5 separate regions of the Homo sapiens genome follow, and regions 1, 2, 4 and 5 are each linked to region 3. The links come from fine-mapping of genetic effects on gene expression. A gene starts in region 3. Each other region holds a variant in brackets. All regions are shown on one strand. Distances are from middle to middle.

Region 1 (5,104 bases), 46 kb after region 3:
ACGGTTTCATGCCAAAACCTTCCCCATCCCCACCCTCATGAAACTGGTCTCCGGTGCCAAAAAGATTGGGGACCACTGGGTGTGTAGTAGGCTATACTATGTGAGTTTGTGTGAATACATTCTATGACCTTCACACAATGGCAAAATTGCCGAATGTCACATTTCTCAGAACATATACCCATGGTTCAGTGATACATGACGGTACTTGAATCTTCTCTTATCTCACACTGAGTGAGTGGAAGCAGAGTGACTGTGAGCAGTGAGGTCAGAGTCTTAAGGCTTCCCTGCCAAAGTGGTGGGGGTCTGGGAGCACACGGTGACCATAAGCCTGGCCTGGACGTGGCCAAAAAGGGGCAGCAGTCTTTTTTGAGCACATTTTAGCCCTGACATCAAAACAAACAAAATTTCAGGTGATGAGGCAGTCTTCCTGGGAGTTCAGGAAGGGAGAAAACAATGGCAGGTCACTCAGGAGCTTTTCCACATGTCCCCAAACATGCAGCAAAACATCAAAGAATATTTTTCTGCCAACAGACAACTGTACTTATGAGTACAGAAATAGGAGATTTTTGTGGGGGAGAAAGTAGGAGTCTTTGGAAAGTGATTATGAGACTCCAAAGGTAATGATAAATGATAGTAATAATAGCTCTATCAGTTAAGAAAAACGGGGAATCTGATATGGGGAATTAGTTACAAGAGCCACGGAAGAGCTGAAAAGTCATGCACGATGTCGTGGTGGAGTAACCCAGAGATTAGCAACTGACAGTGGAAGCAGTTGCTAACCCTAGAGATGTGAGTGGAAGACCACCACTGGAAATGCTGCCCAAAGCAAAGTAGGTGCGATTAATACCCCCACTTCACAGATGAGTAGCATAAGGTACAGAGATTAAAGGCATATGGCTACTAAGTGTGTAATGAACTTCAATTCAGGCCACGTGATAGAGTCCACATATGGCACCACTCCACTATTGCCATATGAATAAAGGGCACATTAGGGGAGATGATAGTAGAATTGAGTGAAAGTTGAATTCAGAGTATAAATTTTTAAATGCTTGTCTTTAGTTGAGGTGGTTCTCCTCATAAAAGTGAGTTCATTCATTCATTGAATGAATACTGCTGACTCCAAGCCAGATACTGTGAATAAAAAGATTACTTAATAAAATCCATGTATCCTATAAGGAATTTTGATGCAAAAGAGTAGTGAGTGAATGAGCACGTGCCTGAGTTTAATTACAAAGGCAACTGTGAGTTAATGAGGGTAGGCCTGACTTCTTGATGGAAGCTGTAGAAATGAAGGGAGATGCTAAAGTTGCCCAAAGACCAGGTTGTGCACCTCCAAAAGGAGCAATCAGAAAGCCAAGGGACACTGATGAGTGTTCACTCTCACTCTTCCCCAAGATTGCACAAAAGTTTGTCTTTGTCTTCGTCTTTGCTTGTGTGTTATTCCCCAACAAATTAGTTCTATGTAAACATCCTAATTCTTTTCATGCTTTCTTTGGAAGTTTTCCATTCTGATGTCACTCTTCTATTTGAGTCACCGTTTCTATATTTACCATCTATTCATCCTGACGGCTTCCTAATTTGGGAGAAAACCTTCAGGGTCCCTCACTTCGACTTCTACCTGAGTCAAAAAGCATTTCAATATAAGTTTTCATTTTCCTTTTGACTTTTCCCAGCATTTTAATTTTCCTGAGGACAATTTAAGAAAAAGAGAAACAGAATGCATGGTCCCACAACTAGTTCACAGTCAGGAAGAAGAAGAGTTAAATGACAGGCACCCCTGACCCATGCTGCAAACTTGAGGCCATTATGCTAAGAAATAAGCCAGCCACAGAAAGGCGAATGCTGTATGACTCCACTCACGTGAGGCACACAGAATAGTCATAGACATGGAAGTAGACTGGTGGTCACCAGGGGCTGGAGGAAGGGGAGCACGGGGAGCTGCTGTTTAAGGGATGTGGCATTTCAGTTTTGCAAGATGAAAAAGATTGGTTGCACAACAATGTGAATATTCTTAACACTACTGAGCTGTACATTTTTCAGTGGTTAAGATGTTGAGTTTTATGTTATGTGTATTTTAGCACAGTTTAATAAGCAAACAAACTCCTGGATCTGAGAAGCTGGGGGAGTCAAGGCCTAACATTCTAAGGGCCCTGTGGAACCGGGCAGTTGTCCAACATGCTCCAGAAAATCCCGGGGTCTCTTCAGCCCCAATTTCAGCGGTCGCAGAGGCCCTGTGGGAGGATGCGCGGACACGCCGCTGTCAGGTTTCCCGCCTCAACCCTTTTACTCAGGTCTGAAGTGGCGCCTTGGAGTGGGTGTGAGGAAAGGAATAACTCTCCTGTCTTCCTGTCCTTAACCTGGGCTCCAAGGCCGAGGGTCTAAGTTCCCAGGGGCAAGTGTCAGGGTTGGGAA[A/G]ATGCACAACGCCACCTACTGGCGCCTCTTTGCCCTCCCTCCCCATCGCTTCCTGCCGTCTGTGGTCTCTCAGTGGGACCTGGGCTGTCTCTTTCAGAAACAGGATGGACACAGTGGCTCATGCCCGTGACCGAGCACTTTAGAAGGCCAAGACAGGAGGATTGCTTGACACCAGGAGTTCGAGACCAGCTCAGGCAATGTATTGAGACTAAAAAACAAAATAAAAAATTAGCTGGGTGTAGGGGTGTGTGCCTGTAGTCCCAGCTACTTGAAATGTTCCCCTGGGGAAAGAAAAACCCTTCTGTAATTTTGTTTGAGATTGCATTAAGTTTATACACAAATTTGGGGAGAACTGGCATTCTACTGCTATTATCAACTACAATTTTACGTTGTTTCTCTCTCCCCCTCTTTATTAGGTGTTAAGCCAAATCACCTATTAAGTAATGATGATTTCCTTATAATATTTATACTTGTTTTATTTCTTTGCCTAATAAATTGGTTATTATTTACAAAACGGTGAATGCTATCCACTTCTTTATTTTAATAATGTCTTCTGGGATATTTTTAAAGAATGTAAAAACTAGACAAGGGCCCTGCCCAGTCAGAATGGAGACACCAGTCAGCTGGTACACTTACATCAATGAGCAATTATGGGCACACAGTAAGCCCTGAGTCTTTTATCATCAAGTATAATGTTTGCTGATTTATAATAAATTTAAAATAATATTTTAATTCTTATTTTACCAATAATTTTTTCTCAGGTGGGGATAGGGGGTATGCATTGCTTCTGTGATATTGTTGCTACCGGTCCATTTCAATAAACAGAGCTATACCATATCTATTTTTAAAATCATGAGTACTTTTTGATATTTAAAATTTAAATCTAATACTATACTCTTTTGTGTAATTTATTTGATTTTTATCATTGTATCCCTTTTCTTTTATACTGAAAATTTTGAATCCTAACATTATTAACGTATTTATATGCTTTGTCATACAATAGAAAGAAATGTTTCAAAGTAACAGTACAGCACTTCTACAAAAATAAAATGACCAAGTTGAAGTTTCAAATTTATTTGAAGTTCTTCTCCTCTTTAGAATATATCCCGCTAAGGAGGGTGAGTCAAAGAAGTGTGCCCTAGGATCATGTGACATAATCCTTCCTCTGTAGGGGTATGGTATATATTTGATGTATGGTTATGTTCATGTGTTCATTTCCAATTTTAAGATTTGTTTAAAAGAAGAGGTACTACAGCACTTTGGGAGGCCAAGGCAGGCAGATCCCTTGGGCCTAGGAGTTTGAGACCAGCTGGGCAACACAGCAAGACCCTGTCTCTACAAAAAGTACAAAAATTAGCTGGGTGTGGTGGCGTGCACTGATAGTCCCAGCTACTTGGGGGACTGAGGTGGGAGGATCACTTGAGCCTGAGATGTGGAAGGTGCAGTGAGCCATGATCATGTCACTGCACTCCAACCTGAACTACAGAGTGACATCTTGCCTCCTCCGTAACCAAAAAAAAAGAAGAGGAAGAAGAGGAAGAAGAGGAAGAGGAGGAGGAGGAGGAGGAAGAAGAAGAACAAGAAGAAGAAGAAGAAGAAGACGCCCTACATTTGTAGTCATTTTTTTTTTTCACTTAATAATGTATCCTGGGAATCTCTCCAAATCAGCACGAAAAGACCTTTGTTTTACCTTTTTTTTTTTTTTTTTTTTGAGACGGAGTCTTGTTCTGTTACCCAGGCTAGAGTGCAGTGGCATGTCCTCGGCTCACCACAACCTCCACCTCCTGGGTTCAAGCAATTCTCCTGCCTCAGCCTCCTGAGTAACTGGGACTACAGGCGCACGCCACCATGTCCAACTAATTTTTGTATTTTTAGTAAAGACAGGGTTTCACTATGTTGGCCAGGCTGCTCTCAAACTCCTGACCTTGTGATCTGCCTGCCTCAGCATCCCAAAGTGCTGGGATTACAGGCGTGAGCCACCGCGCCCAGCCTGTTATATATTTTTTTACAGCTGCATAGTACTTTGCTCTGTGGATGTGCCAGTTTATGTAAGTGGTTCCCTATTGCTACAAAATTGAGTTACTTCCAATCTTTTGGAATTACAAACAATACTCCGATGAATAACCTACACAAGTATCTTTCTGTAATTGTGTACATGTACCTGCTGGATAAATTTCTAGACATGGAATTGCTGGGTGAAAAGGCAAATTCACGTGTAATTTTCTTAGTTTCTGACAAATCCCCATACATGGGGGTTATAACAGTTTGTATTCCTACCAGCACTGTATAGCAGGGCCTATTTCCTTCCAACTCTGCTAACAGAGTGTATTGTCAAACTTTTGGATTTTTGCCAGTTTGATCGATGAGAAATGCAACAGTTTTCTTAATCAATTGCATTTCTCTAATTATAAGTATGGTTGAAAATTTTTTTCATATATTTAAGAGCCATTTGCATTTGTCTGCAACCAATTTGTTCATATCCTTTGGCCATTTATCTATTGGGTTGGTGGTCTTTGTCTGCTCAATTTCAGAAGCTCTTTATAAAACGGGCACTGTGGATATAGCAGTGAACATGACAAAGTCTCCTCTTTCACAAAGCCTGCTTCCAGGGCATGATTCCTTTATGGCTGGTGTGGCTAGAAACAGTTCTCTTCTTTCAATACAGAGACTGAGGCCATGAGCAGTGATGATT
Region 2 (5,104 bases), 560 kb before region 3:
AGACTGCCCTCTTCTTCCGAAGACTCCAGCTGAGGATGCCCACCCAGGCGAAACAGCCAGCCCATTCACAGCAGGCTCTCCCACCTAAGGTGGGTGAAGGAGCTAAGCCATGATTTCAGAGCCCCAGCCAATTTGGGGCAGAAAAACCAACGCGATGATTCCAAGTGAAGTGGCATCGTTCATCTGGGATAATACCCGAGGTTTGTTGTCTTCTGCCAAGGAAATCAAGGATGTGGACACACAAGGAGTGAGATTAAGAGCAGAGCTTTAATAAGCGAAAGAAAGAGAAAGGCTATCTCCTGCAGAGAGAGGGCTCCCAAGCAGGTGTCTGGTCTGCCACAAAATACTTAGGGTTGTGTAGATGAGCTTGAGGAGGTGGTGTCTGATTTACATAGGGCACAAAAGATTGGTCGGACCAGGTGTGCCATTTGCATAAGATGCAAAAAACTGGTTAGGACTAGGTGTGCCATTTGCACAGCATGTGAAAATCTGGCCGCCCCCCACTTTAATCTTTTATTATGCAGATGGATTCTCCACCTGGCGGATGCCATGTTGCCTGTTCCTTTACTGTACACACGGTGACAAAGAAAAGGGAAGATGGAGCCTCCAGGTTGAACATACCTGGCCCTCAGGTAGCCCTTTTCTATTGGCGCAGCTTCCGGCATTCATCTGTGCAAGCTTCCAGCTTGCTTATCTACATCTACAGCTCGAATTTTCAGACTGCTCTTTGTTAGAAAAGAAATGATTTGGGGGCTGCTTTTTTGTTAAAAGCAAAATTCTGCTAAGGGCTCTTTTATACTCACTATGTGCCTAAATAATTTCTTTCCATCTCCTGTATCACGAGGATTGTGCCCTTGAGTAGTGAGAGGACATAGTGGTGAGGAGCACAGATCCGGGGTTCAGACAGCCCTTGCTGTTCTCCAGGCAAATGGTCTTGAGCAGGTCAGTTAGTAGTTCATCTATCATAGTGTTGCTTTAAATGAAAGATTAAATGAGATAGTATACATAAAGCTTGTAGGACAATGTCTGGCAAATAATAAGAGCATAATAAATGGTTGCTATTGTCTAAATTAATTTTCTGTTAAATTTAAATGGCCAGAAACAGGATACACAGGAGAGGTAAAATGTTGGAAAAAATATATATATAACAAATGCCCAGGCTAATAGTACACTTTCTGCATCATAGAAGGCCTGAGCTTGTACACTGCTTTCTTTAACACTGTTTTCATTTTGTGTTATCAAAGGAAAGCCTAATTGTCTATAATCAAATGAAAAAGAATCTCCCTTCTCCTTAGGAAAACACAAACTAATTTGAAAGCCTTGTTAATGGTGTGCTAGCAGCTCCCATCCTCCCACCAGCCTTGGGGCAGTCTGTGCCACTGCTCTGTTTGGTTCTGGTCTGTGTTTTACCATAATTCAACAGGTGCTCGCTAGGTCCTTTGAGAAGACATGTAATAGATATGATAAAGGCAGAGCACATCCCACAGTCATGTCGTCTGTGTTTCTCCAGGGAGGCATAGAGACTTTTCGTGGCAATTAATTATTCACATTTTCTGTCCTTCCCCTCAAATGCTTGGTTTCCTATCCAGCTCCACAGAGGCATGTTTCTCGTGGGGTGGGGGGGGGTGTAACTCTAACACCTGATGACAGCTTGAAGCTGCGTTCTGTGTTCTTTGCTTGTGTTTTCAGGTCATGTGCAGCGGGTACGTGCTAGTGATGGCCAGAGCATGCTAATGCCACTGCTCATTCTCCTTAGCTCTTCTGGGGCAGGGTCTTAGCCACTTACATGTCCCTGGTTCAGGCAGTGCAGAGGGGGCTCTGGGGGTCGGGTCTTCGTCATCCTGGCTCGCCTGCTCTTGGCTGCCTCCCAAACTGCCAGGCGAGCTGGTACTTGGTGGAATGCCTTTCAGCTCACCCCCCTGCTCTGAGGCCGGGCATTTCGCCCTTCTGCAGAGCTGTAAACATTCACTCATCCATGCAGACTTCAGCATGGTCTTTGTTACTGCTCTCAGGGAAACCTTTGTGTAACTGATAGAGATGGCACAGGGCTGAGCGCCCTGACAGCTCCACTGGAGAGTCTCAGAAGCCACCTTCTCCCGGGCCTCTTCACACCCAAGCCTCTCACGCCATGCTATAGGCTTTCTTGGGTGACTGTTATGCATTCCTTTCACTTGTGCACCCACCTGTGGTGCTGGCCTGTTTGAGTTGCCCTCGAGGGCACTGCTGAGATGTGAAGACCTGGGCATGTGCCAACAGGGAGGGCAGTTTCTAGCTTATTCTTCCTCCAAGACCTGGGGCCAGAGGAAAGAAATGTAAGTGGGTGTCCAAGAAATGAAGCTGTTGGCTGGTGGCTGGGAATGAAGCCAGTCAGAATGAGGTGGGAGAGCCGTGCAGAGGGGCCAGGCGGGAGCTGCCGTGGCCACACATGGATGGAGAATGGCAGCTGGCCACTCTGCTGTGAAAGGGATACAGTGGAGAGGCGAGCACACTTCTCTGCAGAGCCTGGGCTGATGGTGCACACGGAACTCGGATACTGGAGCTAGTGCTCATACTCTGTGTGACCTTGGCAGGCTACTTCACCTCCTGTGCCTCAATTTCCTGGTTTCTAAAATGGGGACAATCATAGCACCTCCCCTTTCTATGGTGGTTGTAAGGATTAAATGAGTTCATACATGTAGAACATGGAGAAAGCACCCATGTTAGCTAACATGTCACCCTGTGTACCTGGCCACATGCACACCTGGGGGTGGGATTAGGACCTTGAAGGGACTTCCTGGTGGCCCAGGCAGCTTCTTTTCCCAGACTTTCCTTTACTTCGCATGGTGTTTTTCCCCCCTCATTAAAATCATCTGTCATTTTTTTCAGGTAAAATTCTTGACCCCTCGTTCAAAGCCTTTCTGTCCTTTTCCATTTACATGGAGCATTCACTGATGCTTAGCAAAGTCGCATGTCTCCACTGTTGGGAGTTCAAGGCACCAGAGAAAAGTGAAATC[C/T]ATTTAGATGATGTGGTATTTTCTCCTACTTTTACTGGAGTTACTCACTGGCAGAAAATTTCATCGCAGCTTTACTACTTTTGCGTCAACTGTACTTCTGCCGATCGTGTCATGAATGTTCAACCAAACCGAAAGAAGCCAGGCAGGCAGAAAGGGCAAGCAAAGAAAAGGGCCAGAATTATCTCTGAATTCTGATTGTGTTCCTAGCCATCATGATGAATTTTCATGATTCAGGTCTATATGGGGGCACACGCTTATCAGATAACTGCATACAAATGAGAATATGATCTGAAAGTAACTGGCCCATCCTTAAATTCAGCCCTTCACCTAAGCAACACAAAGATCCAGTTGCCAAAGGACATCTCTCCTGGAAGTCATTTGGGCATCTCAAGCCAAGTGGTCAAGGTGGAACTTTCTGTCTTTTCCCACAAATCTGCCCTTCTTCCTCTATTTCCTATTTCAGTTAAACATCACATCAGATCACTTGTTCAAGCTGGAAACATCAGGGTATATACTCCTCTCCAACTTTTCCTACACCCCACCCACCAGGCCTGTGGGCTTCCTGGCCTGCCATTTGCATCTTTATAGCCTGTGAATCCATGCCTCTTCTATTTACCCACTTGACTGACTGTCCTGGATCTGTAAGTACTGCTGGGTAACAGCCACCTCCAGTCTCAGTTTCAGGCTTGAAACAACCATCATTATTATTTCCCATTTGTCTTGGATCAGCTGATCTAGACCATGCTCACCTGAGTGGCTCTTGCCCTGCGTCTTTGGGTGTGAAGTTTGGCTGATCTAGGGCAGGCTCAGCTAGAGTGGGTCTGTTCCATGTGTCTCATCCCCTTACTGGGACCGGTGGGCTCCCCCAAGTATGTTCTTATGGAAATGTTGGGAGCACAGGGAGGCAAGCCAAAACACATGCCACTGCTGTCTCTTTCTCCTGCCCAAAGCTAGGCATATAGTCTCATCCTAAATCAAAGGGTGGGGAAATACGCCACCCATTTAGTGGGAGGAGCTACACAGTCACATGGCAGAAAGTAAGGATACATAATAGGATAAGGAACTGAAGCCACTAACATAATCTCCTACTCTGCCAAGTCCTTGTCATCTCCTGTCTGGACTCTTCACTAGTCTTCTAACTCCTTATTTTGCCTATAGCCAACTTTCCCCCAACTTGATCCTGATACCCCTTCATAAAACCTTCCTTTGCCCCTTATCAACTACTGAATTGAGCTGAGGCCCCATACAGCTTGGTTCTAATCCATTTTTCCAGCTGCATCTGTTGCCATGTCCCAGAATTCCCCACGGCCCCCTTCCAAATGTGCTTGTTTTTTGCACAGTTCTATACCTTCGTAAACACTTCCTAATCTCCTCAGCATTTGAGGGCATCATGAGCAAGAGGATGTGTTCTGCCTTTACCCTTCAAGACCCAGTTCATTTGGTGCCTCCTCCAGGAAGCCTTCTGCAGAGCCCTCCTTCTTTTGTCATATGTAGTAAGTTGGAATTGCTCTATGCTCATATTTAACTCATACAAATTTGAGAATACATGCTCAGCCAGCAGGAAGGAAAAAGAGGGAAGACAATTTAAAGGATTCCACTTGCCATTCTACTCCATGAATGTGGAAAGCTGAAACTTGACTCCGCTCTTACCTTAGTCATCCTTAACTTCCAGAAGCCTCTCAGGTTCCCAAAAGCCTCTTGTAGAGTGAAGGGCAGGGTTTGATGAGTAAGGGTTCAGTGTTTAAAGAAACAGACTATTCTCTTATACATGGCCCTGCAGCAAAATGGTTATTTTATGTGGTGTTCAACTAAAGAAACATCTATCTGGCCATCTTGTCTTGTTACAAGTTAGTACTTTATTGGAAATTTAGGAGACTTTCAGTGTTAATCGTGTCTATAGATAACCTTTGCTTCACAGTGACTTTAGAATCTAGCCCCCACCCCAAGTTACTATTCCGTTGTATTCCTTTTAGGCATATATCAGATTTAATTTTACTTTTTGATGTTTGTGTTTCCCCACTCAGTCACAAAGTTCTCATCTTATGGGCTTATGGGTCTTCAGAGGGCTGCTGCCTATGGTTGTGCAGGTTGTGCACTGCACAGTTCTCAGG
Region 3 (5,104 bases):
AGTGAGAACTTCCCAAATACAATAGAGCCAGAAAAAAAGCAGTCCACAGGGAACAGGCCTGAAGAGCCCTTCTCCAGGGGCAGGAAGCTGACAGGCTTTTCTCTGTGATACCCAGTCAGAGGGGACATTAGCCTCTGGGCTCCACACTGATCCGTATTAGAGACGAATGTTTGCTGAGGCTGGCTCCTCTGGGTTGAACCTCTTCCTCAAACTCCAGACTGGGAGTGCTGCCAAGCGGGCAGTACCAGCCTGGCCTGCAGGACATGTCCCCGCCCTCTGTCCTCTGCCTTGGATCTTGCCTTCCATACAAGAATTCCATCCTGGTCCGATCTGTTGTTAATAAGACTTGTCTTTTATGTACTCTGCCCCTTATTGGGGAAGCATTTTATTTTCACTCTAGAAATCAGTCTCTAGATATCAGTCTCTATTTTTCACACACACACACACACACACACACACACACACACACACACACACACACGACTTTCCCAAGGTCACCAGAAGGTAGGTGATCTTCTTCAACACCCAGCCTCGGTGCCAAAGGGCAGTCCCCAGACAAGCTGCATCAGCATCATCTGGAAACCTGTTGGAAATGCCCTGCCTACTGACTCAGAAGTGATTGCTTGGCAACCTGTGGTTTCATGTGCCTTGCCAGTGATTTTGACTCAAGCTGAGAGGACATTTGTACTTACTGTTTCCTGAAGCTGAGGTGACAGGGATGGGGAGGAGGAAGCTGGCAGGTATCTGTGTCTCCCCACACCCTCAATTTACCCAAATATGAAATTTGCTTAGGACCCATCCACACTTGCCCAGGGTTTAGGAGTCTGTTTAAAACTGCCCCAGGGAATTATTAGGTTCAGCAAAGTTTAGGAAACAGTGATTAGATCCTCCTGCCTTAGGAGCCCAATATAGGGAGGCTTTATAAAAATCCTTGTGCCAAGAGAAACGTTGTAAACTCTAACTCCGCGCTCTCACACTGAAGTCAAAACAAGGTTGTTGTTTTTCTCTCCTATTCACTAAATCCACAACAGCAGGAAAACCCATCTAACTTTGCCAACTGCCTTCCCCTCCCCTCCCTTCCCCCACCAATCTGTGGTGGATTGGGCCCCTTGGCCTCACTTCTACCTTCCCTCAAGGTGGGGAAATCAGAGCGAAAGAGTCCTGGGAGAAATTTTTACAGTCTGCTTTCCTTGGGGCCCACCCCTGGTTGGAAACTGACTTAAGCTTTCATGCTGTGTAATGTGGAAAGATCCAGCAATTAATGGTCATTGCCAGAGGACACCCCTTTGAAAGAAAGAGGCTGCCACTGTATTCCCCTAAAAACTGTGGGACAGGGCTCACGACTACACTCCCCACCATTCTCTGCAGCAGGGGCTCCTGAGACAGAGCTGAACCTTCTCCAAAACGATGTGGGGTGAAGAGCAGGGAGTTGCAACTCCTACCTCCCCTAGGAGTGCTGGCCAGGTTGCCGTGGGAACTGATAAAGCCCCAGTGCAGGGAGAAGCCTCTCAGAGGTGAGAATCACCTGGGGCATTTGGATGAAATGCCAGTCCAGGCCCCTGTGCAGATCCACTAAATCAGAATCTGTAGGGATGGGGCCTGAAAACTGGGTACTTTTAATTCTCGCCCAGTGATTCTGATGTGCAGACAGGGTTGAGAACCAGCGGTTAGCCTAATCAATTCTAAGAGAAAACCTCCATCTCTCCTCCGTCACAGGAACCTGTCACCTCTTAAAACCACAATGAGGTGGAGAGCCAACTAGGGCACACTGAGCGTGGTCACGGGGCGACGAAACCACCACGCACCGTTCCCCAGAAGCACACACTGGCTGGAAAGTTCCAGCTGGAGCCAAAGGTCGCAGTCCAGGTGCTGCATCTTTTTAAAGGAAACACACCCAAAGGCACTAGGACAGAGCCTTAGCTAGCGATTTAGATCCAGCCCTATCTGACGCCGCCAGCAGCACCACGAAGACACTTCCACGAGCACACCCAGCGGGGCGCCGAGGTGCCGCCCAAGAGGCTCCTTGGCGCCGGGGCCGCCTGACGTCAGTGGGACGGCCCTGGGCTTGGGCGCGCCACAGCCCCGCCCCTCGGGCGCCAGTCTCGGTCGCGGGCATTGAGCGGCTGGAGTCTGGCGACTGCCCCACGCCCAGCCGTGGGTCGCTAGACGGCGGGCGCACCCGTCGTTCTGGACACGCTTAGTCGGCCCAGCGAGAGGGCGAAGGAGCCGCGGGCGCGTCCCCGCCAACCCTGCTCGCCCGCGCCGAGGCGGGCCACGTGACAGCCCGGGGCCCCGCGCCCCGCCGCGCCGCCTTACTTGGTGTACTCGCGCAGCCCCTTGGCGAACCACACGACGCTGCGGTACAGGGACATGCCGGGAGCGCCCCACGCCTAGCCCCACCGCGCTCCCGGCGCGGCCTCCGCCCTGGTCCCGCCCCCCGGGAGTCGCCCGCCCTGACATCATCCCGGTTATGTAAGAGCCGCGGCTTCCGGTTCCTTGCTCCACCGGTAAGGCAAGGGGTCTCGGGGCCGGCCGGTCGACTCCGCCCCAGCCTCAGAGGGTGGAGTGAGGGCGGACCGGCCCTGGTGGGGGCCGCAGTCGAGGTCCGCAGTCTCCTCGGGGTCGAAATCGGGCATCAGCGCCGTTTAGAGAACACCGTCCTGCTGGGCATGGCCGGGATGCGAAGATGGCCCTGCAACGCACCTCCTAGAATTTGGTTACCTAGAAAACCATGTGGAATAAAACGACGAGGCTTATGATATTTAAAAGACTTCTGCATCGAATTGGTGTTATCATAAGGGTTATTTTAATAACTGGCATTCTCTAAGTTTCTACACGTGTTGGGGGATGCAGTGCCGTGCCACATTTCCCGTCTCCAGCAAGCGCAGTCAGATTGGCGACATCGCAGGCAAGAGGCAGGGCTGGGGCTCCCACCCGAGAAGTAATTGTCTCCAAAGTTGGACTTTTGCCACTGGTTCTGCGACTTCATGCAATGCCAGGGAGAGCCCCTTGATTTCCCCCAAATCCTCATCAGCCTCTTTCCACCCAAGCCCAGATGAACAGTGTGAGTAAAAAAGAGTGTGGTTGCTGCGTGAACCCAGATCTCAGACTAGTCATCCAGCCCCATTATGTAGGACTCAGACACCCCTGTCCACATCTAACCTCCAGCCCTAACGCCACATTAGAAATGGGGGTCTTACTGCTGCTGTCACTCCTAGTCACCCTGTTAAATTCTATACCGGTTTACCCAAGTCGCCCAGAGACTGGGCCCCACTTACATAAGCTGAAGAGACCAGCTGCTTTAATAGCCTCATTACCTAGGATATAGGATCACTGTCCAACCTCACTCCACAGTGGGCAAGTTTTTACTTCAGAATAACTTTTGAAATAAATTTCCCCGGAACAGCTCGCCCCTCTCAACAGGACTCTGAGGCTCCACTACGTTGCTGTTATTCCTGACAGAGTGATGAAAGGAAATTTAAACAAGTGGCATTTTGTAAAACCACCCCAGCCTGTGTGACTTTCAATGCCTGTCCGATTTGGCTGGGAAAATATTTTAGATCCCCAGGGCTACATACTGTTTTTTATACCCTCCTCTTTGTGTCAGTGATGGAAAAGGTGTCAATCTGCTCTGAATCTCTCTGAACACCTCAGGAAATAGGCTTTTGGCTCGCAGAGAGGGGATGAGAAATAGTTTTGAACCACCAAGTCTCTTGGAGGGTGTCAGCAGCCCCTTGAAGTAAAAGTGTGGCTGCAAACCCAGCTCTCTGCATTAGCCAGGTGAACCTGAGCATGCTGCATACACCCTCAGTCTTGGTTTCTTAATATGTAAAATGGGAATGAATATGCGCACCTCGTGGGGTGGTTGTGATTAAAGGCATTCATTATAAAGAGCTTAGTTTCATACAAAGTGATCAGAAGTGTTGGTTTCCCTCCTTAAGTTTTCTTCTCATTCCTTTTTCCCCTGCGCTTACAGCCATGCAGTGTACATTCAAGAAATTTCCATGAGGGCATGAGGTGTCCAGTGTTAGCCTCAAATCAAGCATCCACGAGGTAGTTAGTGTATACATTATATACATTTAAAGAGGAGGTCTTAGGAAAAGCCAAACCCTGTCTCAAAATGAGCTTCCACTCTCACCTGGATGCCAAGTAACACACACACACAAACAAAGGGCAGTATGGAGTTCACAAGGGAATGTTCCCGTTTAACTGGAGTCAGCTGAGCTGGATTCTAGTCCAATTTCTGCCAGTTATTCCCTGTGTGACCCATGTGATAAAATGTATAGAAGGCTTAAAGTGTGCCAAGCATTGTGGATTATAGCACTTAATTCTCACACTGATCCATATGGTTACTCCTGCTATTATCCCCATTTTACAGATGAGCAAACTGAGAGAGGTTACATAACTTGACTCAGGTCACAGTAAATACATGGTGGAGCCAGGCTTTGAGACCAGGTAGTATGATTCCAGAGCCCACACCTTCCCTGCTGCATCATACTAAATGGGGGCAAGTCACTTAGCCTCTGGGCCTCAGTTTTTCTCATCTGAACAGAAAGGGGGCCAGACTAGGCGCCACCCAGGGCTCCTTTCAGCTCCAACTTTCTATACATCTACTAAGAAAATTACATATGGATGCTAAATAAGTTAGGCCCAGGGTGCTTTTAAGAGAAACGTCAAAGTGGATAGGGTTGCTTCATTTCCCAGGGGTGGAAAGCCACTAAAATATTTCTTCTGTGTTCCTGGTTCCAATTTGCCACTCAAAAAGCCAAACAAAGAAATCATCCCCCAGAGTTCCATTCCAATTGATTTAGATCCCTGAGGCTAATTTTGACCAAAATGGAAGGAGAAGCAGAAGGTGTGGAAACCCATGGCTTTCTGCACAACAGATACACATGATGAGAAGTCTGTATTCTCTTACACACATATACACACACACACACACACACAACCAGTGTTCATATCGCCTTCCACTGAAGCTCATACCAGTTCCTCTAGCCAAGTTGTCATGGCAACACCAGCTGCCAATGAGATCATGGAAGACAAGGTCATAATGGCAATGGTGCCTTAATATTTTACCTGGCAAAGCCACTTAGTTATTAAGATG
Region 4 (5,104 bases), 22 kb before region 3:
GGCAGATGGACTGGGCCAGGGGGGTGACACCTGGTCCAAGCTGTCCCACCCAAACTCTCCCTAGAAGAGTGTGAAAATGGAATGCTGAATGGAGGACAGGTGACTCAGTGGCAGCCATATGTGACCCAGATGCAAGGAAAAGCAGAGACGGAGAGTGAACGAAGCAGTTGTGATGAGAGTCCATGGACAACAGTCCCAGAGAAGCAGAAGGTCACCTTAGCTGCTGACAGGTTCTCCTGTCCTGTCCCTGGCCCTCCCAAAGCCCAGCTGTGTCTCTGCCATTGAGTTCTGTGAGGGCTGCCCTTGTAGCCCACTAATAAATTATTTTTTTCTTTAGTCTTCCTGTGTGGGTTCTTGTTACTTCTGACCACACAAAACCTAAGACACTTGGCTTGTCTCAGTTAGGAAGTCCACCAGTTCTCCCGGGATAACCAGCTACCCTTTAAAATAAGAATGTCTCCTGGGCGTGGTGGCTCACACCTGTAATCCCAGCACTTTGGGAGGCCGAGGCGGGCGGATCACTTGAGGTCAGGAGTTCAAGACCAGCCTGGCTAACGTGGCGAAACCCCATCTCTACTAAAAATACAAAAATTAGTCGGGCATGGTGGCCCACACCTGTAGTCCCAGCTACTCGGGAGGCTGAGGCAGGAGAATCGCTTGAACCCAGGAGGCGGAGGTTGCAATGAGCTGAGATTGTGCCACTGCATTCCAGCTTGGGCAAGAGAGTGAGATTCCATCTCAAAAATAAATAAATAAATAAATAAATAAATAAGAATGTCTCTGGACAGACACAGGAGGGGCATTGTTATAAATGGTTAATGGGTGCTTTTAGTCATTCATATCTTCGTGTGAACCAGGTCAACAACTTCCTTTCCTCTAAGACTTCCTATTAATATCAGGGACATTTGGGTGATTCAAGGTTTTGATGAGAGAAAAAGAGAGATATTTTAGAGTACAGAATCCCACGGGAGGGCAGGCCTGGGAGGAGGGAAGGCACCTTCAGCTACTGGAAAAGTTGCCCAAGGTTAGTCCTGCTCCCAGTAACAAGGAAAATAATTCATTATCATTATGACTCATTAGTATTTTAAATTTACACAATGCCTTTCTTCCAAGGAACTCATTATGTCGATGGCGGTTCATTACGAGAAAGAGATCTGGCAGTGGAATTTATGTTGGACATAGTCTTCTAAATATGGCAACAAGAACTTTTATTACATGGGTACATGACTTGAAGCAAATCTCTCTATCAACTAATTGAGAGGTAAAACTGTGTGGAGCACAGGTGATGCTGAAGGAGAGATGCCGCGTGTTCTTAGAGCACTGCGAAACCCATGTCTGCATCCTCCAAATACTAAATTCATAGTATTTCTGAAATTATATATCTTGAGTATGACATTTTAATAGCATTAAAGGTAATTATTTTTAATGAGAAAAATATATTGCAATTTGTAAATTTAGCATAGGAAAACTGATTGGCATTTCTATTAAGAAACCTTCAAAGCCACCTTGAATTAAAGCTACTTTGGTTACTAGCCAATGGGTTATGTGCTTCCATCCACGCTACTATCTGACGGAGAAAACCATTGTCTTGCTGTCCCTGGGAAGTTTCTGGTGTTAATTTTAAAGGAGCAGACAGCTGCACTGGTGAACACCATTTGGTACTTCTTTTGTACAGTAACAAAAACATAGTGAGCCTGGGGGGCTCACACACTAATCTCACACATTATATAAAGATGATTTCAAAGATTACATTACCTGGAGAAGACAGCAGGACAGAGTCCCAGAGGAAATGAGCTCTTAGAAGACATTCAAGGCACTGGCTTCCTATGGGGTATTCTTGGTTTGGGCTCAGAGAGTGGTTAGCGTGAGTCAGGCCTATCCCCTTTGCCCCCAACCTCAACTCATCCCCGCCACCTTATCCAGTTCCACGCACTGAACAAGTATTTATCAAGGGCCCACTGAGTGCCAGACCCAGTGCTAAGTACTCAGGATACAGACTGAGGGCGCCCTGCCCTCTGCCAGGCATTCCCAGGCATTACACATGTTACTACGTGACTAACCTACACTCACGGTCGAGGTAAGTGCTAGAGTGCTATGGGCACATGGGGGTGGGACGGCGGGGGAGGTGTCAGGCTCTGCATGAACTGTGAAGGGACATTTCAGCTAAGACCTGGAGAAGAGGAGGGAACAGGCAGGTAGAGGGCTGGGGATGGGAAGAAGGGCTGCAGGTATGGAGCACAGCCTGTGCAAAGAGGCCCTGAGGCTGGAGAGTGCAACCAAGGCAGCTGCAACCGAGTGAGCATGGTAGAGGGTAGGGCAATGTGAGGCTGCAGCCTCCAAGGGCAACGCCAGAGACACGCACCTCATATGAAACCAAGGGGTGACTTTAAGCAGAAGGAAACAGATTTGCATGCATAAGGACCACTCTGTCAGCCTTATGGAGGAAGCCTCTGTTCGGGAGGTGGGTACAGGAGGGCACCTAGGGCCCCATATTACTCCACTACATCACAGTGACTGCAGTGGCTTGGGCAGAGTGGTCGCAGTGGAGCTGAAGAGCAGGAGACAGACTGGGGACACGTTGTGCAGAGAGTCCAAAGGCACGATCACTGCTTGGATATGAGAAGTGAGGGGGTGTCAAGGACAAGCGGTGACGGAGATGATGCTGGCCACTGGGGTGGGGCCCATTACAGGAGCAGACCGGTGAGGGACTAAGGCTTCAGTTTTGGACATGCTGAGTCTGAGGTGTTTGAGATCTGGACCTGGAACTCAGAAGAGAGATCTGGGCTGGAAGGGGGCCCTTGGGAGCCAGGCACATGATGGCATTGGGGCAAGG[A/T]TGAGATCCCAACAGAGAGTGTGGGAGGAGAAAGGAGGGCACAGGATTGGTCTGGGAGGGATGCCAACATTTAAAGTCCCCGCAGACACGCTGCAGCTGGCTAAGGAGGTTGAGAAGGAGCCAACCTCCGAGGGTGGAATCACAGGTGGCTTGGAGGCCATCGCGCTATGGGAGCACGGACAGCTGTGCCCAGTGCTGCCCATGGATGTGGTAGAGGTGCGCTCTCCAGAACCAGGAATATCAGGGTCATAGGTGACCTCAGCATGAGAGTGGCCAAAGGTCAGGGAGATAAGCCGACTGGAGTGAGCTGCAGGATGCCCGGGACTCGGGGACCATGAGAGGCTGGTGGAGGAAGTGCTGTGCAGGCTTTTCTCCAGGGCCTAGCCAGGTGACTGATGTCACCCCCTGCTGTCACAGCCGCAGTATGGGGGTCCTGTGTGCTTCACTGAGATGTATGAAAGAACCTGCTGTACTGCAGGGAGAACCCGAGTATGGGCACTTGGGCCTCAGCTCATTAAAAGGACAAAGGTGCTTATTTGGGATTGTGTTTCTAAAACTCCTCAAATGAATGTTTGTTACCAGCACACCTTTAAAACACTCACCAAATCCCAGCCAGGTAATTAGGTAAGGTCCTGGCCCACAGGAGGACTTGGATTTGGGGCCGGTGCTCCTAGGCCAGAAGACCTAGAAGGGCAGACACCACGGAGCCTGGCGAGGACTCTGCACCACCATGGAGCTGCCGAGAAGGAAGAGCGGCCCAGAGCGGGGTGCACGGCGCGGCCCAGGAGGCTCAGTCTGGGAAGCTTTTGTGTCTCATCAAAAGCAGCTTCCATGGCTGGCAGAAAACCGAAAATCAATGGGAAAAATGATCTCTGACTTCTGAGCTTGTCCATTCTCTCTCCTTAGGACGGCTCCCCGGTACAGTTTAAACCAAGAGCCTCGCCTGGGGCCCTTCTAGTGGTCGAGGGGAAATGGGGTTCCTAGGAGCTCCAGACTCCACCAGCCTCCCCTGTGGCCTGAAATCTGCCCCCACCTCAAGCTGAGGACACAGTCTCTCCAACAGCAGCTCACTTGTTACTGAGGACGAGCACCAAGAAACAATCATAATGAATAATATGCTTCTTAGGATGAAACAGACTCACTACATGCCAGACATTGAGCTGAAAGTTACAATGCTTTCTTTTTTCTTGTTGATATAATATATATATAATGTTTTAACATAAAGTAAAATCTGTGCATGCGTGTGTGTGTGTACACAGTTCTGAACTGTGACAGATGCAGTCATGTAACTACGCATTAGACTGTGGTGTGATTCGGAAGAACTCTATCACCCCAGATGTTCCCTCACAGCCACTCACATTCCCTCTGTCGTCACACCCTCCTCCTGCCCCTAGCCACTCCCTAATCCCGCCCCTGCAGCCTCTGACCTCTTCTTAGCCCCCTAGGTTGCCTTTTCCAGAATGTCCTATAAATGGAATCACAGTCTGCACCCCTTGGGGTCTGGCTTCACTTTGGCTGGTGCATCTAAGAGTCACTCACATTGTTTTGTACATTGACATTTTGTGCCTTTTTATTGCTGAATTGCATTCCATTGAATGGGAGTGCCAGTTTATCTATTCACCATATATCTGGGCTGACTCCTGTTTGGGGCGATTATGAATAAGCTGCTATAAACATTCGTGTGCGTATTTTTGTGTGCACACAGGTTATTTCTCTTTGGTTAAATATCTTACAAGTCTTTTTTAAATCTTCACTTCTGGCCTATAAAAGTATCATCATCCCCATTTTACAGAATGGGAAAGTAAGGCGTGGGGAGGTTGAGGACATTTGTACAGAGTCAGGTAACTGGAGGAACTGGACTACAACCCTGCTCAGTGCAGCCAGTGTGACTGAGCGCCTCCTGAGAGCCAGGTGGATTCTGCCCTCAAGGATCCATGCTCTGGGCAAGAAACCCACCCATCAGCAGGTGGCTTCTGCTGAGCCACAACAGGCACACAGAGGGGTCCATGGGAGCCCAGAGGGGAGCATCTGACCAGGCTCAGGGGAAGGAATGTGTCCAGCAGAGTCACAGAGGAGCAGTATGAGTTAGCCAGGTAGGGGACATTCCAGGCAGGGGAGCAGCAGGACAAAAGCATAGAGGTAGCACTGCCAGTGCCAAGTTCCAAAATAAGAGGCTGACTGCTACAGGGTCCATATAGGAAAATAATGGGAAATACATTTGGACAGGAGGTGGGGTCTGTAACAAAGGACTTTAATTCCAGGTTAAGGAAT
Region 5 (5,104 bases), 33 kb after region 3:
GTGGATAGGGACAGCACCAACCAATCTAAGGGGGATATCTGAAGATTGTTCTTAAAACATAAAATAAAAATAAAACTTTTATTTTCTTTCTTTTTTTTTTTTTGAGACGGAGTCTCACTCTGTCACCAGGCTAGAGTGTGCAGTGGTGCAATCTCGGCTCACTGCAACCTCCACCTACCGGGTTCAAGCGATTCTCCTGCCCCAGCCTCCCGAGTAGCTGGGAATACAGTCGTGCACCACCACACCCAGCTAATTTTTTTTGTATTTTTGCTAGAGACGGGGTTTCACCATGTTGCAGGATGGTCTCGATCTCTTGACGTCGTGATCTGCTCGCCTCGGTCTCCCAAAGTGCTGGGATTACAGGCGTGAGCCACTGCACCCGGCCAAAACTTTTATTTTCTAATTACATAAATATGTAGCTTTATAGGAAATGTGGAAAATGTAGAAAACCAGAAAGAAGTAAATTTAGAAGTCATTTGAAAGGAAAACACTACAGTATATGCATTTGCATCTATGTACTATTTTATCAGGTCTGGGATCAGGCCAAGGAGGCCAATTTTTCCCAGCCTAAATTCTAAAAGACATATTAATTATGAAAATTCTCAAACATTCAAACAAATACAAAGAGTAATAGAGCAAACATTCAGATACTTGCCACTCAGGTTTCCCTCTGCATGCTTTTTAAGTTTTTAAATTTTTTAGTTGGAAATAATCCCAGTGTGCATTTCCTGGGGATATTCTCTTATTAATATAGTACCTTAGTACAGTCGCAGCTTCTTAAATTTACATTGATACAATATTTTAATCTGCCATCCATATTCCAATGTTGATGACCTAATAAAGCCTTTGGGTCCAGTCTAGGCTGAAGTATTGCATTTGTTGTCATGTCTCCTCTGCCTGCTATGGTTTGAATGTGTCCCCCAAAGTTCATGTGTTGGAAACTCAATCCCCAATGCAAACGTGTTGGGAAGTGGAGCTTAAATGAGAGGTGATCAGGCCCTGGGAGCAGAGTAAATGAGTTCATGTCATCACTGGAGTGGGTTCATTATAAAAGGGGGAGTTCAGCCCTTTTTCTCTCCCCCACGTGCTGCCTTCCTCCATGGGATGACACAAGAAGGCCCTCCCCAGCTGCCGGCCTCTCATTCTTGGACTTCACAGCTTCCAGAATGATAAGCCAACAAGTTTCTGTTTGTTATAAACTACCTAGTCTGTGGTATTCTGTTATAGCAGCACAAAGTGGATTAAGAGACCTCCCTCAAATCTAGAACATTCTCATCAGCCCTTTTTGTTTTGTTTTCTAGGATGTTGACATTTTTGAAGAATACAGTCCTCTCTGCTGTTTTTTAGTAGAACATTCTTCACCTTGTATTTGACAGATGTTCCCTTGTGTTTGGACAAAGGCTGTGCATTCTTGGCTGGATTACTGCATAGGTGACGGCCACCTGTCCCTCACTGGTAATGTTCACTTTAAACCCCAAAGTGTGGCCCACTTTCTCCACTGTATGATTACTATTTTATTCCTCCCTTGCAACCAAGTACTGCTTGTCATCAAAATTTCCTCTTAGATTTAGTGTCTATTGATGATTCTTGCCTGATCCAACCTTTATCTGAGGGGGCAGGTGGGAGGAAGTAGAAGTCTAGGCAAAGAAACACATGTTGGAAGGCCCAGGGGGAAAACAGAAGCTGGTGTTCCTAGGAAACCTAAAATGTTTTTGTCTGGCTGGATTTTCCAGAGTGAGAAGGGAAGAAGAAAGAGTGATTCAAGAGGTAAACGGGGACTCAATCACAAAGGGTTTCACAAGAGAGCAAACGCTTCTGTTTTATTCTGCAGGAATGGGGAGTCACTGTGCAGTGAAGGACCTCCCCAGAGGAGGTGCTGAGGGGATGGGCAAGAGGCAGCAAGAACACTTAGGAGGCCTTGCCATTGTGCTGGCTGAAGACGGAGTTATTCATACAACAAGGGCAGAAATCTCAACAATCAAGGAGGCCATCATTAGGCCAAGGTTGGCCTAGACCTTGACCTGCAGATTTACAGTGCAGCCAGGAAACATCCCTTTTTCTGGGAAACCCTGAGCAT[G/A]ATACTTCCTCTCTTGCCAACCTGGTGTTGCCATCAGCACTTCTGTTGCATAAACAGGTAGGATGTGTGTTGGGGGAGGTGGTGGTAACTAATTTCCCGAAGATGTAGAGCAACAATATAGCTGATGGTGTCTCCTTTCCCTGCCGGCAGTAAACCTATGAGTTTTCATCCTGCCAGAGCATCAGAGGCCCTGGGCAGAGACTCCAGCACCACTGTCCCACTCTGGCCCTCACAGCAGTAGGTGTGCTCCAGGGATGAAAGGAGGGTGGCCCTTAGAGCTGTCCCTGGGAGTAAAATGTCAGGGCTGTGCGTTAGGAGAATGAGATGGGCACTGGGCCCATCAGCGAATGGAGAAGGTCAGTTGTATCTGGGAGGTGGCTCTTCACTCATTTACCTGCTTAGTCAGCCAGTGCCTATTTATTGAGCTCCTACTGTGTGTCAGGCACTGCTGGAGGTGCTGGCATGCAGCAGTGCAGGAAACGTCATGGGAGGAGAAGTGGGAGGTGGACAGTGTGTGCTAGGACATGGTAAGTACAGGTAAGGAAAGGTGCCCAGGCACCCATCTGTCAGCCCCTTGTTCTGCTGACCCTCCACCTTAGTCCGCCACTACCCACTGACTGCAGCTTCCTGATATTAGTGCCTGGAGATGAGTTGCTTAAGGCTTCCCACAATGTTCCCTTTATCCACATTTCATCTGTAAAAGTTAGACCATACATCTCACCATGATGTAAAAGCTTTCATCCCAGGGACCCCCAAGGCCTGGGATCTGATTTTGGGATATTCCAAACACAAGACAGACTGGGTCTTCTGTAATATGGTCCAGCCCCTCTGGACAGAAAGGACCCCAGCAGGTGATAGTGGGGGAATATCCAATTTAGTAAGGAGACAGGTTGAGGTAGGAGTAAGGGAAAGCTACCCAGGTCCAAGGTGTCACATTGCCCTGCCGTGTTGCCCAGCACGGCTGCCATCATACACTGATTGTAGCAGTGACTCCGTTCACATGCATATTTTTCAAACACATATTACATGGAAAACACATACAGTGAACTATGGAAAACTAAAGATGAATTGGTAAGGAATGGAAGGAGAAAGCAGCCAACCGAGGGCCGGACACTGTCTTCCCCAGCTCTACCACCCTGGGGCCACCCCATACCAAGCACAGCCCACTCATATGATCCACTCCAGCTTTAGCTCATCGGGTGATCCCAGAGGTCTCAATCCTACAAAACCAGGGCATTTCTCAGAGTTGTGACTCACCATTGCTGGCGATTTTAGAAATGCACTGATGACACGTTTTCTCCAGACCTCCTGGCATTGTTCTTGCTCGCTGACAAAGTTCTGAGGATCAAAAATAATTCATTAGAAAGGATGGTGGAAGGATTTACTCAGCACCAATAACCAACCCTCTCTGTGCATGTCAGTGGTGGCCTGCAGGGTGGTCTCAGTCAGCCCGGGTGGCCTGGGTGCCAGTGTCAGGTGTGGCCTTGTTAGTGGTTAGCGGGGCTGAGAAAAAGACCCCCTATTCCACAAATGAGAGAACCAAGCTCAGAGAGGTTAAGAGGCTTGCCCAGTGATACCAGCCAGGAAGACACAGGCCTGGAGGGGGAGATGGTAACAGCTCTCACTTGCTGAGCAATGGCTGCAGCCAGGCGTTGTGTTAACTCTTTAAATAGGTCATCTCATATTTAATCCCACAACAATCCTATCTGGGAAGTGTTACTGACTCTGTTTTACAGATGGCGCCTTAGAGACCCTGAGAGCTTAAGATTCACCCTAAGGCCAGAGCTGGCAACTGGCAGAACCCAAACTTGATCCAGGTATGGCTCCAGGTACAGAGCAAGGGCGCCCTCACTTCCTGACGCAGCTGCTGCACTCCCCAGGGTCCAAGCGGAAGAGGAACCATGGACTTGACCAGAGCAGCCTGGGTGGAGACCCGAGCGGCCTGGAGCACCACCCCGGCTCCCCTGTGGACCTGCTGTGGTCTGAGCAAGTTGGTTGACACTGTGAGAAAGGGCTTCCCTTCCTTGGAAGAAACAGCCATATACATTTTAAATCCACAAAAAAACTCCAGCTCATCAAGACGGCAAATTTTCCTGCCCGGTGAAATGAGGTAGCCCCGTAAAGACACTAGGAGAGGAAGGGAGTCACTTTGTTCCTGAGGCTGGGTGTGCGTAGTTCCACCACTTCCCACCACGTCATTGCTTGGGAGTAAGGCCTCCATGGGGGCTGGCTGATCCAGGCGGGATCTGGGGCAGGCATCCTTACTTCATACAAAAGTCTCCCCAGGAACCTGTCCAGAGTAGCCGCGGCTCCATTTAAAAGCACGATTTAACAAGGTCCTTGTTCCTCATACTGCAGGGGTTTGCAAACCAAGGGACCACAGCATTTTAGCAGCACTACCTGCAGGCCCTCCTGGGTGAACTAGGGCTTAGGGCAGGGGGAACAGGCCGTGATGGGGAAGATTTGTGGTCTGAGGACAGAGATGGTCATGATGACAGAAGGAGAGCTTGCTTTGACCAGAGCTGTGGCTCATAGCAGGCAAGTCACTCCACCGCCAGCGTCAGCATGGGCCTGCAGGCAGGAGCCATGCAGCCCGCAGCTTCTCTCTGCAGCTGATCCACTGCTAGCACACAAGCACGGTGGTTGGGCTGAGACTCGGGGTTCTTATTTCCCATCACTGTCCTTCTAGGACATGTCATGCTCAAAACTTGGCTTTATGTCAACAGGACCTTTATGGCAGGAAGCAGTGTGACCAGAGATAGTCAGTCCCCAACCAGAGGCATATCACCAGCGCCCTGCCAAGGTCTTCCACATGTTACCTAATTTAGTCTCCTCAGTTCGTATGCCCCATTTTACAGAGAAAACCAAGATTCAGATCAATTTGTTTGCTCAAAGTCACCCAGCTAGTAAGTGGTAGAACTGGGGTTTGAAATGAGGCCTCCGAGACTCTATCTGAAACCTGGACTTTGTGCCTTCAAAGCCCACAATCTCTCCACTTCACCCCAGAGCAATAAAGGGGAAGAAACC

Which allele goes with the higher level. Positions count from the first base shown, and alleles are read on the strand shown. Sizes are in standard deviations (SD) of each study's normalised expression. Not every link is listed here.
With allele A in place of T in region 4, the expression in pancreas of the gene that starts at base 2,426 in region 3 is lower (moderate effect, 0.47 SD a copy in GTEx).

What was found.
Region 1: its variant is fine-mapped to the expression of DHRS12 in whole blood (TOPMed, PIP above 0.99).
Region 2: its variant is fine-mapped to the expression of DHRS12 in lung (TOPMed, PIP 0.93).
Region 4: its variant is fine-mapped to the expression of DHRS12 in pancreas (GTEx, PIP above 0.99).
Region 5: its variant is fine-mapped to the expression of DHRS12 in whole blood (TOPMed, PIP above 0.99).

What each region holds. Positions count from the first base shown.
Region 1 is chr13:51,847,420-51,852,523 of GRCh38, forward strand. It overlaps a transcript of TMEM272 not described here. Among named protein-coding and RNA genes, the nearest start is that of TMEM272, 4.8 kb to the left of the region's middle. RefSeq lists an enhancer at 1,759-2,259. The variant A/G (reference allele first, on the strand shown) is at 2,413.
Region 2 is chr13:51,244,788-51,249,891 of GRCh38, forward strand. All of the region lies in intron 2 of FAM124A (family with sequence similarity 124 member A), which reads left to right. Among named protein-coding and RNA genes, the nearest start is that of FAM124A, 25 kb to the left of the region's middle. The variant C/T (reference allele first, on the strand shown) is at 2,994.
Region 3 is chr13:51,801,738-51,806,841 of GRCh38, forward strand. It overlaps DHRS12 (dehydrogenase/reductase 12), which reads right to left and starts at 2,426. Exons shown (of 9, transcript NM_001377533.1): 1 at 2,317-2,426. LOC107984561 (a long non-coding RNA gene) reads left to right here and starts at 2,099. Exons shown (of 2, transcript XR_007063805.1): 1 at 2,099-3,064. RefSeq lists enhancers at 742-791, 3,177-3,306 and a silencer at 1,987-2,626.
Region 4 is chr13:51,779,437-51,784,540 of GRCh38, forward strand. All of the region lies in intron 4 of DHRS12 (dehydrogenase/reductase 12), which reads right to left. Among named protein-coding and RNA genes, the nearest start is that of DHRS12, 22 kb to the right of the region's middle. RefSeq lists a silencer at 2,062-2,111. The variant A/T (reference allele first, on the strand shown) is at 2,834.
Region 5 is chr13:51,835,139-51,840,242 of GRCh38, forward strand. TMEM272 (transmembrane protein 272) reads right to left here. Exons shown (of 5, transcript NM_001351003.2): 2 at 3,335-3,415. The coding sequence starts at 3,392. Among named protein-coding and RNA genes, the nearest start is that of TMEM272, 7.5 kb to the right of the region's middle. The variant G/A (reference allele first, on the strand shown) is at 2,078.